Linked DNA regions of Homo sapiens: region 1 is linked to region 2. The links come from fine-mapping of genetic effects on plasma protein levels. Region 2 holds a variant in brackets. A gene starts in the other region. All regions are shown on their reverse strands.

Region 1 (8,336 bases), not on the chromosome of region 2:
AAATTTACCCTTTCTCCCCAAAGAGCTTCCCTAATATTTACCTCCCTCTCAACTCATTACGATGTGGCTTCTGCCCACCCTTCCCTTCCACTAAAACTGCCCTCTCTAAGGTTGCCTGTAACCCAGTTGCCAAAACCAATCTTACTTGACTTTCTGCAGCTTTTAATTCAATTCACTGTCCTCTCCTTGCCTTCCTGGGATTCCAGGACATAACTCCCCGGGTCTCCTACTTCGCTGACTGATCTTTCTATTTCTGCTGGCTCCTCTGTCTTCACCCATACTTTAAACATTATCATTTTCAGAGCTAATACTACTCCCATATGGCATCCTTATAAGAAGTTGTGAAAGGGGCCAGGCGTGGTGGCTCATGCCTTTAATTCCAGCACTTTGGGAGGCCGAGGTGGGCAGATCACGAGGTCAGGGGTTCAAGACCGGCCTGGCCAACATGGTGAAACCCCGTCTCTCCTAAAAATACAAAAATTAGCCGGGTATGGTGGTGCGTGCCTGTAATCCCAGCTACTCAGGATGCTGAGGCAGGCAAATTGCTTGAACCCAGGAGGTGGAGGTTGCAGTGAGCCGAGATTATGCCACTGCACCCCAGCCTGGGTGACAGAGTGAGACTCATCTCAAAAAAAAAAAAAAAGTAGTGAAAGGTACATCATACTCTGTGCACAGCCTGGGCCAGGGTGCATGGCTTGGCAAGCAGAGCCTGGACTGCATTTTAGTCCCTACTCACCACACTCAGCCTGGTGCCCTTGTGCCATGAACACCCTGTGCAACTGCACATTGCAGCCCAGGGCACTATCTGTGGTCTTCATCTCTTTATTGCTCTATCCTCTTTCCCTCTGTAACCCTGCTGACTTTCATTGTTCCACCTCGAACCTATGTGTCTCATCTAATCTCTAGACATCTTTTCATCTACGTCCTGAACTTCTCTTCCTGGGTGTCCTGTGGGGCATCCTAATTTTGCTATGGCCCAAACTCAGTTCAGATCTGCACACTTGCAAATATGCAAATATGCCTATTTTTCTGTATGCCCTCTCTTGGTTAATGACACCACCTTCCATCTTCTTATTCCGCTGAAAACTTCAAGATTATCAATGCCTCTTCCCTTTCCGCAATGTAAGGCTTTTGTCCTCTCCCAAGTTCACTACTGGAAGAACCTTCTAACCAGTTTCCCTATCTCCAGAGCCCCTCCCCTCCAAATTACTCTCCCCACTGCCACCAGGTTTCTTTTTTTACACAGACTTGAGCATATTTTTCCTTTGTTTCAAAACCCATTTTGTCTTCTAATTAACCATAAGATAAAGTCCAGATGCTCAGGCATTGAACATAAAACCCTTTATATCTTGGCCCAAACCTACAAAACTTTTCCAGTCCTACACCTTGCCTCTGCTCCCAAAACATGCCTTGCTCTTAGCCACATCCGATTATGATGCACCCTTTCTTGAACATGATTTTATTCACTGCGCCTTCGCTGGTGCCTTGAATGCCCTTCTCCTGTTCTTTGACTTGTAAAAATCTCATCCACTCTTCAAGATCATGCTCTCTTGTCACTTCTATTTTCAGGCACCCTTTGGCCCTAATTGACAGTGCTCTCCTCATTGCTTCTACAGTCTACAGCACTATTGGTATGCTACTACAGATAGTCTAAAAGTTGTTTTGCATCTCTTTCCTACTACATTGAGTTTCTTAACGGCAAGATTAAGCTTTGTTCGTCTCTATGTCATCAGCAGTTTGTCCAGTGCCTAGTACATGTTAGATACTGAATAAAAATTTATGACTTGAATTGGGCAGGATGCTTGAACATCATTTTGTGAAAGGACCAGTGATTTCTTTCTGTATAATTTTCAGCCTCTTCTTTTTCAGATATTGAAAGAACCTCAGAATAGGATGGTTGATGGGCCCACTTAAGATAGTTGCTATGTTATAGCCCCAATTTTTAGCCGAGTCTCTCTAGGGACATAGAAACCGTGCTTTCTCAAATGACTGATTGGTGCCTGAGTATGGATTTTTCCAGATATCAGAGTTCCTTAGAACTGCGATGATTTTCAATCTAAGAAGACCTAGATTCTAGGTTACACACACACACACTCAACCTCATCGTTTTGAATAGCAGATACAGGGTTTCAGTGTTTTTGTTTTACTCTCTGTGGGTTCTATCCCAGCATCTTACTAAGGGCTGAGATTTCAGGGCATGAAACACGGAATCAACAAAAACAAGGTTTTTACAATCTCAAAACTTTGGGAAACTGTTGAGTTATCTTGAAAGCCTAGAGGGGGAGCATCAGTTAGTTTTGTAGAGAACTCGGCGAAACAATATTGATGCATACGGCTAGCCTCTGTCATCCTCCTGAGTTAAACCCAACGGGACATGCTGGACTATACAGGAGCCACTCGTGGACTCCGTGAAGACCAGATGGGTAGTGTTCTTGAAATGAGCAGATGTCTATTTGTAGAACTCTGGTAGTAGCTTTGGAGTGGGTGGGGAAGAGCTTGGTTCCCATTCCCCCTCAAAGACAATTATTTGCTTCTGATGAGAATCCAAGCAACAAGTTGCCATTGAGAATGCAGTGATTGGTCAGCAAACGAAGCCTATAGGAAGAGCCTTCGGGTGCATTCCTTGTGACATATCGACCCGTCCTAAGCCCGACGCTTAATTATGGGACCTCTCAGCTCCTCCCTCCCGCCTCGAGCTCCCTTTTGGCTTCTCACAAGGCTTCCTGGGGACGATTCCCCGATGCTAGAGTACTGGGGGTCTGGGCCCACAGGGAACCCGTCAGCCTCCCTCCTTGGAGCGGGCCTGATCCCGGGAGGGCGCCCGCGCGGCCCGGAGGCGGGAACCTAGGGGGAGAAGGCGCCGGCGCCGCCCTGGCGCGCAGACCATCTGTGCGGTCCTGCGCGGGGGCAGGCGCGGCCTCAGCCCCCGGGCGCTGGCGGACCCAGCGCGTCAGCTAGGCCGCCCCCGTCGGCCCTCCCCCGGGCGGGGCCAGCCCCGACGGCGCTGACTCAGCAACGCGAGGGGGGAGTTTTGTCCCTCCGCGGACCCCGTTTCTCCCAGCCTCAGCCTCCCCGCCGCCGCCGCCGCCGCCGCCGCCGAGCCGGTTTCCTTTTTCCGGCGCTCCGGGTGCGAGAGACAGGTCGGGCCCCCTAGGCAGCGAGCCGCAGCGCAATCCCGGCGCTCGCCCAAGGACCCTGGAAGCTACCGTTACCCCGCCGGGCAGCGTGGGCGCCATGAGCAGCTCGGGTGAGGTGCCGCCGTCCCCCGCCGCGGTCCTCTGGAGGAGCTCCGCGGTCCCCGTGAGGCCCGGCGGCGGGGAAGGCCGGGGGCTGGGACCCTTGGCGATGGCGGGGAGGGAGCTTTCGGGGCAGGCTGGATCGGCCTGGAGGGAGACAGCTCCTTGGAGGAGGATGCCGCTTATGGGTTTCCCCGCTGCAGCGGGCACCCCAGGATGCGCTTACGAAGTTAGATTCGGGACGCGGGAGCCCCAGATCAGCCCTTTCCCCCTCTTTTTGCGTTAAAATCCTGTTTGGTCTCCCAACAGGACTGAATTCGGAGAAGGTAGCTGCTCTGATACAGAAACTGAATTCCGACCCCCAGTTCGTACTTGCCCAGAATGTCGGGACCACCCACGACCTGCTGGACATCTGTCTGAAGCGGGCCACGGTGCAGCGCGCGCAGCATGTGTTCCAGCACGCCGTGCCCCAGGAGGGCAAGCCAATCACCAACCAGAAGAGCTCAGGTGTGGGCTTCCACTTCTCCCATACGTTCCTTGACCTTCCTGACAGCGTCCCATTTTGGTGTCTTATTTAAGAGTGGTCTTAAATTCGTACTGAAAGAACTGGTCGTAAATTCGTAAAGAATGAGGCACAGGTACAGGCAGGTCTAAGAACATTACCCATGTGGTTTGTTTTGCTGTTCTGTGGCTTGTTAGTACATGCGGTTAGAGTACAAAAGTGACATGTCCATGAGTATACGTTTGAGTGTAATTGACTATATTATGTTCCAATGCTGTGTGGTTTGTAGCCCGTGTCTTGGAGATGTATGGTCTTGGTCACAAAACAGAACATGTGAAAATGTTCATATCTTTGGAGGACTCCCCAGAAATGCCCTGAAGGCCCTATACTATGAAATAGAAAAGATACAATGTAATTACATTAAAATGTCATCAGATGTTACTTTTAAATATGCTTCTTGGTTACAACTGAAGCTAATGTGCTGATGGGCTCAGTTCCCACCAGTAGATCAGTTTGTAATACAGAAAAAAGTTCTGTTCTCATGCCTTGCTGGTCAAGAAGTCTCGTTTTGCTATCTGCTTTCTAGCACCACTCTCAGAAAAAACAGGTATAGTGAAAGATTGGATATCCAGCAATCTAAATAAGGAGCACATTCTCACAACAAAATTGTACTAAACGGATTTTTTAAAGTCTTTCTATACTTAAAAACGACCCCCCAGTCTATCTATACGGACAGGAAGCACATCAGTGCTTGTTTAGAGTCGGTTAGAACTCACAAAGCACACATTTAACGTGAGTACATTTTATTGTATGTACATTATACCTGAATAAAGTTGATTTTTTAAATGTTAAGGAAAAAGTCAAGACCTTACAATAATTAATGTTTTGCTTTAGAAGAAAGTGCTTGGAGTGGTGTGGGCTCTCAGGCTACAGATGATCCAGTTAGTAATGTCACAGTGGTCCTACATAGTTTAGATTGCAGTGACCCGTTAGGGAACAGGTCAGGTCTTACACATTTTGCAGTGTCACTTTTACATACAAAAGATCCAAATAGCATGTGAGTTGTGTAGTTTATTTTCATGCAGTTTTCACATCACCAGTGCATCCAGATCCCCTCTACTAGAAATATATAGCATATAGAAGAGAGGTGACATACAGGTAAATGTAAGGTAAAGACGAACTAATAGGCACTAGTGACTTTCATAAAACACTATAGTTAACTAGAGTTTTCTTCTTGTTACAAAATTATTTTTGTTTAATGTAGAATATTTGTAAATACCAAGTAAATATTTTTCTTGTATATTTGTCAAGTTTTGTGTGTGTGTGTGTGTTTAATAGTGTTTAATATGCATTGATACCTTATACATTGTTATGTAAGCTACCTATCTTTTTCACTTACCAATATATTATAAACATATTTTCATATTAGTAAAAAGGTTATACCCAATACAAGTCAAAGTTTTTCCCTCAGAATTTTCCCTCAGAAAAGAGATAATTTCCCTGTATTTAAGACCTTAAAAGACTTTTCTAATGGCGCTCTCAGTTAATTTATTTTGAAGTAGAGTACAATTTGGAGAAGGCATTACTCTGAAAAATGGATTCTTTATTTGATACGTAAAGAGTGTTTTTGTGTTAAAGATATTAAACCTTTGCATATATATTGCTAATAATAATTACCACCTTTCTTGTTTTGTTTTTAATCTTTCTGCTCTTTCTGATTTACTCTTTCTGAATTGTCCAGATCGTGTCATGAGTTCATTGGTGGGAAATACAGTTGGAGCAGTGCAGTCTATGTGAACCCTCATAATTTCTTGATGTGCTTTCTTGTTTCAGGGCGATGCTGGATCTTTTCTTGTCTGAATGTTATGAGGCTTCCATTCATGAAAAAGTTAAATATTGAAGAATTTGAGTTTAGCCAATCTTACCTGTTTTTTTGGGACAAGGTATGGGACAGATCTGGCAAGATTCTTTTTGTATTGATATCAGCCTTGGTAGGGACTGCCTCTTCTTTTGTAGCTTTTCCAGTTATAGCCTGCCCTTTCATAATAGGTGAGACACCTTTTATTCTGACTTCCAGAGTATCAAAAGTTGACTCTTTCAAAGGCAGAACTGTTTTTGGTTGGTAGGTGGCCATTTTTTTGCAATGAAATAAGTTTACTGACTCATCTTACTGCTTGCTTGTCTATTTAAAATTTTAAATTTTATATTCAATATTCAATTCAATATATCTCCCTTTTTAACATCTTTTTAGGTTATTTGTTCTTTTCTAGGACCTAATTTCCCTCTCAAGAACTTGTCTGAAAAACAGTAAATAATTTTATTTGATTGTTTATTTGTTTATTTATTTTTTTGAGACAGTCTCACCCTGCCACCCGGGCTAGAGGGCTGTGGCACAGTCTCGGCTCACTGTAACCTCTGCCTCCTGGGTTCAAGCCATCCTCTCAACTCAGCCTCCCAAGTAGCTGGAATCACAGGCACATGCCACCATGCCCAGCTAATTTTTGTATTTTTAGTAGAGACAGGGCATTTCACCGTGTTGGTCAGACTGGTCTCGAACTCCTGACCTCAAGTGATCTGCCTGCCTTGGCCTCCCAAAGTGCTGGGATCACAGGTGTGAGCCACCACTCCTGGCCATATTCCATTTCCTAATCTTCAAAATGTATATTACTGACCTGGTTTGGTGGCTCATGCCTGTAATCCCAGCACTTTGGGAGGCTGAGGTGAGAGGATTGCTTGAGCCCAGGAATTTGAGACCAGTCTGGACCTGGCGAAACCCCATCTCTACAAAAAATACAAAAATTAGCCACGCGTGGTGCACACCTGTCCTCCCAGCTACTCAGGAGGCTGAGGTAGGAGGATTGCTTGAGCTCAGGAGGTTGAGGCTGCAGTGAGATTGCACCACTGCACTCCAGCCTAGGCAACAGAGCATGACCCTGTCTAAAAATAAATAAGTAAATAAAATATATATTACATAGGTGTTCATTAAATGTTTTGTTTTAGCATTGGAATGTAAACACTGTACACATATACACAATATATTGGGATACATACACAGGTAAAAGAAGAAACTTCAGATATTCTGATGAAGTCAGATACTGATGTTTATTTACCAATTTTAGTTTAAAAATACTTATTATGGTGCTTGTTTCAGCATCGTAAGTCCCCAAACTGGGGTGATACAGAAAAGATTAGCATGGCCTCTGTACAAGGATGACATGCAAATTCATGAAGGTTTCATGTTTTTAAAAAGAAAAAAAACTATTATGTTGATTCCATGGTAATTCCAAGACTCCCATTCTGTTGATAATGCCAATAAAATTATTGACACTTTTTTCTTTTAATGTTATTTAACTTTCTTTACTCTTTAGGTTGAACGCTGTTATTTCTTCTTGAGTGCTTTTGTGGACACAGCCCAGAGAAAGGAGCCTGAGGATGGGAGGCTGGTGCAGTTTTTGCTTATGAACCCTGCAAATGATGGTGGCCAATGGGATATGCTTGTTAATATTGTTGGTAAAAGTTCTTTCTTTAATGGAACTGAAACTCAGCATGATTAAGTAAGCCTGTAGTTAGGCATGGGCCAATTCTTTGGTGGTTGTGTACAGAGTAGAATTGGTCTCCAAGAAGGATATATAGTTATTTCTAAGGACCTTTAGTTCACATTCTCACCTATAAAGTGCCTTCTTAAATGAGGATTAAGGAGAGAGCTACTGTGAAGGATGGGTTGGAGAAGAAAAGGTAGTATTAAGGAGAACTAATTTTCCATGAAAAAATTGTTTTCTTCTCCATTGATGTAATCAGGAAACACATTAAAACTGTAGCTGTGTTAAAATGTCTTCAAAACATCTTTTGGGGAAATCTCATCATGCTGAGCACTTTACAAAAGTATGATAGATACACTTGAGCTTGACCAAAAGGCTGAGAAGTGACAAAGTATAGTAGATAAAAAGGATAACATAGACAGATAAATATGCACATTAAAAACCTACTTAGGCTGGGTAAGGTGGCTCAGGCATGTAATCCTAGCACTTTGGGAGACCAGGGCAGGAGGATTGCTCAAGCCCAGGAGCTCAGTACCAGCCTGGGTAACATAGTGAGACCCTGTCTCTACAGAAAATAAAACAAATAGCTGCACATGGTATCATGCACCATAGTTGCCGCTACTCAGGAGGTCAAGCCTGGGAGTTCAAGGCTGCAGTGGGCCAGGATCGTGTCACAGCACTCCAGCCTGAGTGACAGAGCAAAACTCTGTCAAAAACAAAAAACAAAAAACAAAAAACCCTGCTTCATAATATGAAGTATAAGATTTTCTGAAGTAAGCCAGCAAAATATCGCCTATTTTTTGAAACAATCACTATTTTTGCCAGGGTTTCTAATTTTTTACCTTCTTTAACACTAGAATTTGTTTTCTTTTAGAAAAATATGGTGTTATCCCTAAGAAATGCTTCCCTGAATCTTATACAACAGAGGCAACCAGAAGGATGAATGATATTCTGAATCACAAGGTACAATATATGAAGCAGGGTGGGATTGAGTTTAGTGTACTTTCCTTCAAACTTATTTTTTAAAAGGGGTTCCTGGGTATCTCTGTATACAGTTTG
Region 2 (8,336 bases):
ATCTGCCCATATCAGCCTCCCAAAGTGCTGGGATTACAGGCAGGAACCACCTGGTTTTTTAGAAACAATTTTCTTTTCCCTTGATTTTTATCAATTTCATTATTGTCCCTATATGTAGTTTTCTTTGTATTTATCATGTTCGTATAATTTTTTGACCTGCCTTTGAGTTTGATAATCCTTTCTTTTGTTACTCTCTCTAGTGAACTATTCATTTTGGGTATTGTATTTTTCAGTTTTAGAATTTCAGAACTAGGCATGGTGGCACGTGCTTGTAGTCCCTACTACTCAGGAGTGTTTCTTGAGCTCAGGAGTTTGAGACTAAAGTGGATGATATAACAACACCCTGTCTCTTTAAGTAGAAAAAAAAATTGCATTTCTTGTATTCTGTTTTTTAGAGTTTCCATTTGTCTGCCAAAATTCTCCATCTTTTTATTCATTTTTTTCTACCTTTACCTGTAAATTATTTTCGATTATATGTCTATTTATATAATCTTTGTTGTTTCAAAGTCTTTGCTAATTCTAACATATGAGTCATCTGTGAGTCTGCTTCTATTGCTTTTTTTCCTTTTGATTACAGGTCACATTTTTCTGCTTCTTCATGTGTCTCATTTTTAAAATTGTATGCAAACACTAGATAAAAGCAGTAGAGACTAGGGTGGGCCATTTTTCAACTAATCAGGAGTTCAGTTAGGTTGGGGCTGTTTTGACACTTTAGTTGGTTTGCATCCCCCTCAGTTTCAAATGTCTTGAGGCTGGGATCAGGCTCCTTTCTCCAGCAAAAGTGTGGAATATTAGCACTGTGAGACTTGAGAGCTCTCTCTGCTGTCCAGGCCAGCCCCTGGCTCCCTGTGCTGCTGTGGGTCCAGCAGAAGTCCCATGGGAGGGAATGGTGGCAGCAGAGGACTCACTGTGTGTGTGTGTGTGTGTGTGTGTGTGTGTGTGTGTGTGTGTGTGTGTGTGTGTGGCTTTTCCAGATTCCAAATTGTCTTGCAGCTCGCATGCAACCATTGAAAGTTCAAGTTCAGCTGGTTTCTCCCCATCACAGCATTTCACTGCATATGGCGGGCTTACTCCTGCAGGTCCTTGTGTCCAGAGATTTGGTACATATCCACAGGCATGAAAGCAGCCACTAACCTCCGTGCAACTAGACAGGGACAGAGCCACTTTAGAATTCAGTTTTAGATGCTCCATACCTACTGCTATGTGATGTTTTAAGTTTGTCAGGTGTTTTCTTATTGTGCAGTTGTTGCGGGAGTATTTTGTGACCCTCTGCATCCTAACTGGAGGTGGAGCCCTCTGACATTCCCATGCAGTGGCGTTTCTTCCTCCTTTCTGGCTACTCTGGAGGGAAGCCCTTCCATGCCCAGACCAGCCTTTATACGTTTCATTTCCTCTCTTGATGTTGCCAGGGCTTTTTATTCTTCACAGGATGTGAGTTACCCCATATATTCTGATCAGTAATTAGATTTTTGATTTAAATTTTCTATCTTTTTTTTTTTAAAGACTGGGTCTCGCTCTGTCACCCAGGTTGGAGTGCAATGGTGCAATCATGGCTCACTGCAGCCTCGACCTCCCTGGGCTCAGGTGATTTTCCCACCTCTGTCTCCCAAGTAGGTGGGACTACAAATGCACACCACCATGCCTGGCTGATTTTTGTATTTTTTGTAGATACAGGGTTTCGTTATGTTGCCCAGGCTGGTCTCAAACTCCTGGGTGCAAGTGATCCACCTGCCTTGGCCTCCCAAAGTGCTGGGATTACAGGTGTGAGCCACCACACCTGGACTTTTTTGTCTTCTTCTCTCTCAAAAAACCGATGCCCACTACTTAGGTCGTGAGGAGTTTGGGGTTTATTCTTCCAGATAATGAAGCACAAGGCTTTCATGAGTATGTGTGTGTGTGTTGGTGGGGAGGTGTAGGGAGTGTTGGGAGTTGGGGGAAGTAAAAAACTGACTAGTGTTACAACAAAGGCCTGTATCCTATTATCCTCAAATGAACACATATCACACCTTCTCTGTCACACCCTCTATTAGTCCATTTTCAGGCTGCTGATAAAGACATACCCAAGACTGGGCAATTTACAAAAGAAAGAGGTTTAATTGGACTTACAGTTCCACATGGCTGGGGAAGCCTCACAATCATGGCAGAAGGCAAGGAGGAGCAAGTCGTGTCTTACATGGATGGCAGCAGGCAAAGAGAGCTACTGTAGGCAAACCCCCATTTTTTTTTTTTGAGACGAAGTTTCACTCTTGTTGCCCAAGCTGGAGTGCAATGGCATCATCTTGGCACACTGTAACCTCTGTCTCCCAGGTTCAAGCGATTCTCCTGTCTCAGCCTCCTGAGTAGTGGGATTACAGGCACAAGCCACCATGCCCAGCTAATTTTTTGTATTTTTAGTAGAAACAGGGTTTCACCACGTTAGCCAGGCTGGTCTCGAACTCCTGACCTCAGGTGATCTGCCCGCCTCGGCCTCCCAAAGTGCTGGGATTACAGGTGTAAGCCACCACGCCCAGCCCAAACTCCCATTTTTTAAAACCATCAGATCTCATGAGACTCATTCACTATCACAAGAAAAGCGTAGGAAAGACCTGCCCCCATAATTCAATCACCTCCCACCAGGTTCCTCCCACAACATGTGGGAATTGTGGGAGTTATAATTCAAGATGAGATTTGGGTGGGGACACAGAGCCAAACCATATCATTCCACCCCTGGCCCCTCCCAAATCTCATGTTCTCACATTTCAAAACAAATCATGCCTTCCCAGCAGTCCCCCAAAGTCTCAACTCATTTCAGCATTAACTCAAAAGTCCACAGTCCAAAGTCTCATCCGAGACAAGGCAAGTCTCTTCTGCCTATGAGCCTGTAAAATCAAAAGCAAGTTAGTTACTTCCTAGATATAATGAGGGTACAGGCATTGGGTAAATACAGCCATTCTAAATGGGAGAAATTGGCCAAAACAAAGAGGCTACAGGCCCCATGCAAGTCCGAAATCTAGTGGGGCAGTCAAATCTTAAAGCTTCAAAATGATCTACTTTGACTCCATGTCTGATATCCAGGTCATGCTGATGCAAGAGGTAGGTTCCCATGGTTTTGGGCAGCTCCACCCATGTGGCTTTGCAGGGTACAGGCTCCCTCCCAGCTGCTTTCATGGGCTGGCGATCAGTGTCTGTGGCTTTTCCAGGTGAACAGTGCAAGCTGGATCTACCATTCCGGGGTCTGGAGGACAGTAGACCTCTTCTCACAGCTCCACTAGGCGGTTCCCCAATAGGGACTCTGTGTGGGACCTCTGTCCTTACATTTCCCTTCCACACTGCCCTAGCAGAGGTTCTCCATGAGAGCCCAGCCTCTGCAGCAAACTTCTGCCTGGGCATCCAGGCATTTCCATACATCCTCCGAAATTTAGGCGGAAGTTCCCAAACTCCAATTCTTGACTTCTGTGTACTCACAGGCTCAACACCATGTGGAAGCTGCCAAGGCTTGGGGCTTGCACCCTCTGAAGCCACAGCCTGAGTTGTACATTGGCCCCTTTCAGCCATGGCTGGAGTGGCTGGGACACAGGCCACCAAGTCCCTAGGCTGCACACAGCACAG[G/A]GACTCTGGGCCCAACCCATGAAACCATTTTCTCCTGGGCCTCTGGGCTTGCGATGGGGGGCTGCTGTGAAGGCCTCTGACATGTCCTGGAGACATATTCCCCATTGTCTTGGGGATTAACATTTGGCTCCTCATTACTTATGCAAATTTCTGAAGTCGGCTTGAATTTCTCCTTAGAAAATGGGGTTTTCTTTTCTATCACATTGTCAGGCTGAAAACTTTTTGAACTTTTATGCTCTGCTTCCCTTATAAAACTGAATGCTCTTAACAGCACCCAAGTCACATCTTGAATGCTTTGCTGCTTAGAAATTTATTTTGCCAGATACCCTAAGTCACCTCTCTCGAGTTCAAAGTTCCACAAATCTCTACAGAAGGGGCAAAATGTTGCCAGTCTCTTTTTGGCGACATAAGAGTCACCTTTGGTCCAGTTCCCAAGAAGCTCCTCATCTCCATCTGAGATCACCTCAGCCAGGACCTTATTGTCCATATCACTATCAGGCTTTTTGGTCAAGGCCATTCAACAAATCTCTAGGAAGTTCCAAACTTTCCCACATTTTCCTGTCTTCTTCTGAGTCCTCCAAACTGTTCCAAGCTCTGCCTGTTACCCAGTTCCAAAGTTGCTTCCACATTTTTGGGTATCTTTTCAGCAACACCCCACTCTACTGGTACCAATTTACTGTATTAGTCCATTTTCAGCTGCTGAAAAGACATACTGAAGACTGGGCAATTTACAAAAGAAAGAGGTTTAATTGGACTTACAGTTCCACATGGCTGAGGAGGCCTCACAATCATGGTGGAAGGCAAGGAGGAGCAAATCACGTCTTACATGGATGGCAGCAGGCAAAGAGAGCTTGTGCAGGCAAACTGCCTTTTTTTTTTTTTTTGAGATGGAGTCTTGCTCTGTCGCCCAGGCTGGAGTGCAGTGGCATGATCTCAGCTCACTGCAAGCTCTGCCTCCCAGGTTCATGCCATTCTGCTGCCTCAGCCTCCCCAGTAACTGGGACTACAGGTGTCAACCACCACACTTGGCTAATTTTTTGTATTTTTAGTAGAGACGGGGTTTCACCGTGTTAGCCAGGATGGTCTTGATCTCCTGACCTCATGATCCTCCCGCCTCAGCCTCCCAAAGTTCTAGGATTACAGGCATGAGCCACTGCACCCAGCCCAAACTCCCATTTTTAAAACCATCAAATCTCTTGAGATTCATTCACTATCATGAGAACAGCACAGGAAAGACCTGCCCCCATAATTCAGTCACCTCCCACCAGGTTCCTTCCACAACACATGGGAATTGCGGGAGTTAAAATTCAAGATGAGATTTGGGTGGGGACACAGAGCCAAACTATATCACACCCACAACTTCCCACATCTTTCAATGTATTCCCATATTCTCCACCCCCTCATCCCATTAACTTCACATCCCAGCCTCAAATGGCCTCCTCCTCTTCCCTACATTCCCCCTACAGATCCACATTGGCCTCTCCCATACTCACCCTATACATTTCAAGTGCACTTCTCAGTGACCCCAGGGGCTGTGCCTCTCATGGCCTTACCCTGTCCAGCTGGGTCTTCAGAGGCCGAGATCAGGCAGAAAGGGGCCATGCTTGTGCAGTGGCCACCTTCATCCATCTGATTGTGGCCTTGAGACCCCAGGGACAGAGGAAGACAGGAGAGCACTTGGACCCATTTGAGCCTCAGATGGAGTCCAGGCTGGTCCTCAGGCCCTCATGGGGTTCCTTGGGGACTGTGTTAGGCATGAGTCAGCAATTTAACTCTCCTCTCCAAAGGTAATCATTGGTAATAGTTTGGTATATATACCTTTTTTCTTCTTTATATTCATTTACAACATATAATGTGTATCATGTAATAACTTCTGGCATAAATTATTCAATTTTATGTGTATAATTATGTTCCTAGTTTTGTTTGCATAGTGGGATCAAAAGGAACTTTAGTTTTTTACTTATAAATACATCTTTATATATTTCCTCATTAGTAATATAGATCAAATTCTTATTTTTAATAGTTATGTAGTATTTTATAGTATGAATGAACTATGCATCATTAAATTAATCCCCTATTGATTATTTAAGTTGGCTATATAAGTTTTTTCTTTTCTTTTTTTTTTTTTTTTGAGATGGAGTCTTGCTCTCTTGCCCAGCCTGGAGTGCAGTGGCATGATCCTGGCTCACTGCAAACTCCACCTCCTGGGTGCAAGCGATTCTCCTGTCTCAGCCTCCTGAGTAGCTGGGATTACAGGTGACAGCCACCACACCCAGCTAATTTTTGTAATTTTAGTAGGGACAAGGTTTTGCCATGTTGGCCAGGCTGGTCTCGAACTCCTGACCTCAGTTGATCTGCCTGCCTCGGCCTCCCAAAGTGCTGGGATTACAGGCCTGAGCCACTGCGCCTGGCCAAGTTTTTTCAATTAAATGTTATTAGAAATGACTGGCTTTTTATAAACCTTACAGCAATGGGCCAGTATTTCTGGCATCTTGCCTTTGAAGTCAGGGCTTTGGCCATTTCTGGCAGAAAAGAATGGGCAGCGCTTTTGTCTTTCCCTTGGAGGGGGCTCACTTGTTAGGAGCCATCTGGTGCCTGAGTCACAGGTGCCCTTATGACATCACAGGCCTTTCTTCCTCCACCCTTCCTGCCTATGCTATGGCTGGATGAACACAGATGTGAGGGGATTTGAACCATCTACAATCAATCCATATGTGACCAATGGTAAGAGAAAGCCAGACACACCAGGCTTGTTAGGGATGTCCCCATAGATCTCTCAGGGTGAAGGGACCCCCTGACACTGAAGACTCTAAGAAGCCCTGGAAGCTGGGGATGTGTGCCATATTGAATGGAGAGGGAGGGACCGCAGCCTCACTCTTGCCTTTCCCCTAATGCTGATTGCAGGAGGAGAAGCAGCCCCAAAAGACGAAGGAACCCTCAAAAGAAGATGAGCCTCAGCAGAAGGAGATGCCAACCCATTTGTCCTTAGGAGCAGAGTCAAAGGCAGAGGTAGGAGGAGCCCTGACTTGGATGTCATTGATCCCATGTCCTAGTGCTAGTAGCTAGTGTCTTTTGCATGGTGCTGTTATAAGTGAAGTTTCTGTGCCGCAAAAGAAATAGCACTCAAATATAAAATTTTCTTTTTAATTCTCAGCAAGGCAAGGTACTTCTATAGAAGGGTGCGCCCTTACAGATGGAGCAATGGTGAGTGCACACTTGGACAAGGGAGGGGAAGGGGTTCTTATCCCTGATGCACGTGGCCCCTGCTGCTGTGTCATTCCCCTATTGGCTAGGGTTAGACCACACAGGCTAAACTAATTCTGATTGGCTAATTTAAAGAGAGTGATGGGGTGAGTGGTTTGGTGGGAAAAATGGTTACCGCGGAGCAGGAAATCGGAATGAGTCAGGGTGGAGACTGAGCAGGTAATTGGAATGAGTCAGGGTGGAGCCGGTAATCGGAATGAGTCAGGGGGGAGTAGGTAATCAGAATGAGTCAGGGCGGAGCAGGTAATTGAAAAAGGTTGCTTTACAAGGAAGTTAAGTTTAAAAGTAGAAGGCAAAGAATTGAACATATTGACATACTGATTCTTTGAAGAGAAATTTAGAACTCATACCTAACAACTTCTCCTCTTGCATTTCCTTACAGCTCTTTCTCTTTAAACTTCTTTAACATGTCTTGGCTTAGATGTTCTGCTTGATTTTCCAAAAGAAGAAGCTTCTCTGGATAAGGTGGAGAATAGTTAAGGGAGGTTTTAGTAAGTGCTGTTTTTATGAGCCTCTTTGCACCAACCCACGGACGCATGGTGTGACACAGCACCCAACAAGAATAAATACACCCATTGCGGCTGCCAGGGAAGTGAGAATTGAGGCTATAATTCTTTTCCATTTACTGAACCACTTTTCTAGCCATCCTGTAAAGGGCTCATTTAACCCTGAGTTGTTGGCTAACTCATTGGACAGGGCAGTCAGACCTTGCAATGCCTTTGTTATACTTCCATCAGGGGCAGTGTTGTTTGGGATGAAGGTACAACATTGAGTTTTAATCATGAGGCAAACTCCTCCTCTTTCTGCTATTATCATGTCTAAGCCTATCCTATTTTCCCAAGCCATCCGGCTAGTAGCCCCTAATTGCTCAGCTATTCCTTTAACACCATCTCTAGTGTAGTTAATAAATCGCTGTTGGTTGTAGCATATGTAGTTTATTCAATCTATATTTTTATTAATTGTCTCTCAACAAAATATTGACTCAAATCCTGCAGCTATTTGATTTTAGGCTTTAAATTGATCTGGTATTCCCTGCTAGACTCCAATTGCATTTAAATAGATGTGAGAGTCAAAAGACCCATAAGGGGCTTCTCTCACTTTACGATGTCTTATTTTTCCTTCCTCTGGTTGATGAAATGCCAGGGTGAAAGGGATAGCCAATTGGACTAAAACACAAGTGCCACTTCAGATATTCATCAGAGCGTCCAGTAAAGGTCCACCACAATACCACCACACATCCCCTCGGGGATGAACAAGGGCTGACTGATTGATAAGCTCTTGAAAATTCTTAAGCTCACTGCATCCGTTCAGGTCTCCAAGGAATGCTAAGTTTCCTCCCTGTCGTGAGAGACATGAAGTGAACTTAGTATTGGGAGATGGAAGCTGGATGACCCTCGGGGGCCGACCCACAGGGTGCCAGACTTCAGAATATAGCAGAGAGAAAGAGCATGGCACGACTTGTTACTCCAGGCTGTAGAATCCTG

Alleles and levels. Positions count from the first base shown, and alleles are read on the strand shown. Strength reflects both the effect of a copy and how common the allele is.
With allele G in place of A in region 2, the plasma level of the protein whose gene starts at base 3,110 in region 1 is lower (moderate association).

Evidence for each region. PIP is the chance, under the fine-mapping model, that this variant and not a neighbour inherited with it causes the effect. Protein levels are from antibody-based Olink assays in UK Biobank. Linkage for the fine-mapping came from a reference panel and not from the study's own genotypes, which makes the PIPs less certain.
Region 1: it holds the start of BLMH, and the variant in region 2 is fine-mapped to the plasma level of the BLMH protein (UK Biobank, PIP 0.94).

The regions. Positions count from the first base shown.
Region 1 is chr17:30,286,718-30,295,053 of GRCh38, reverse strand. BLMH (bleomycin hydrolase) reads left to right here and starts at 3,110. Exons shown (of 12, transcript NM_000386.4): 1 at 3,110-3,247; 2 at 3,546-3,743; 3 at 5,572-5,681; 4 at 7,107-7,248; 5 at 8,152-8,240. The coding sequence starts at 3,235. LOC124903971 (a long non-coding RNA gene) reads right to left here and starts at 364. Exons shown (of 2, transcript XR_007065700.1): 1 at 1-364. It also overlaps the pseudogene RNU6-1267P. RefSeq lists silencers at 2,700-3,109, 3,310-3,379 and an enhancer at 3,830-3,889.
Region 2 is chr3:51,901,246-51,909,581 of GRCh38, reverse strand. IQCF1 (IQ motif containing F1) reads left to right here and starts at 6,229. Exons shown (of 4, transcript NM_152397.3): 1 at 6,229-6,312; 2 at 6,493-6,597. The coding sequence starts at 6,310. RefSeq lists an enhancer at 6,472-7,671. The variant G/A (reference allele first, on the strand shown) is at 3,589.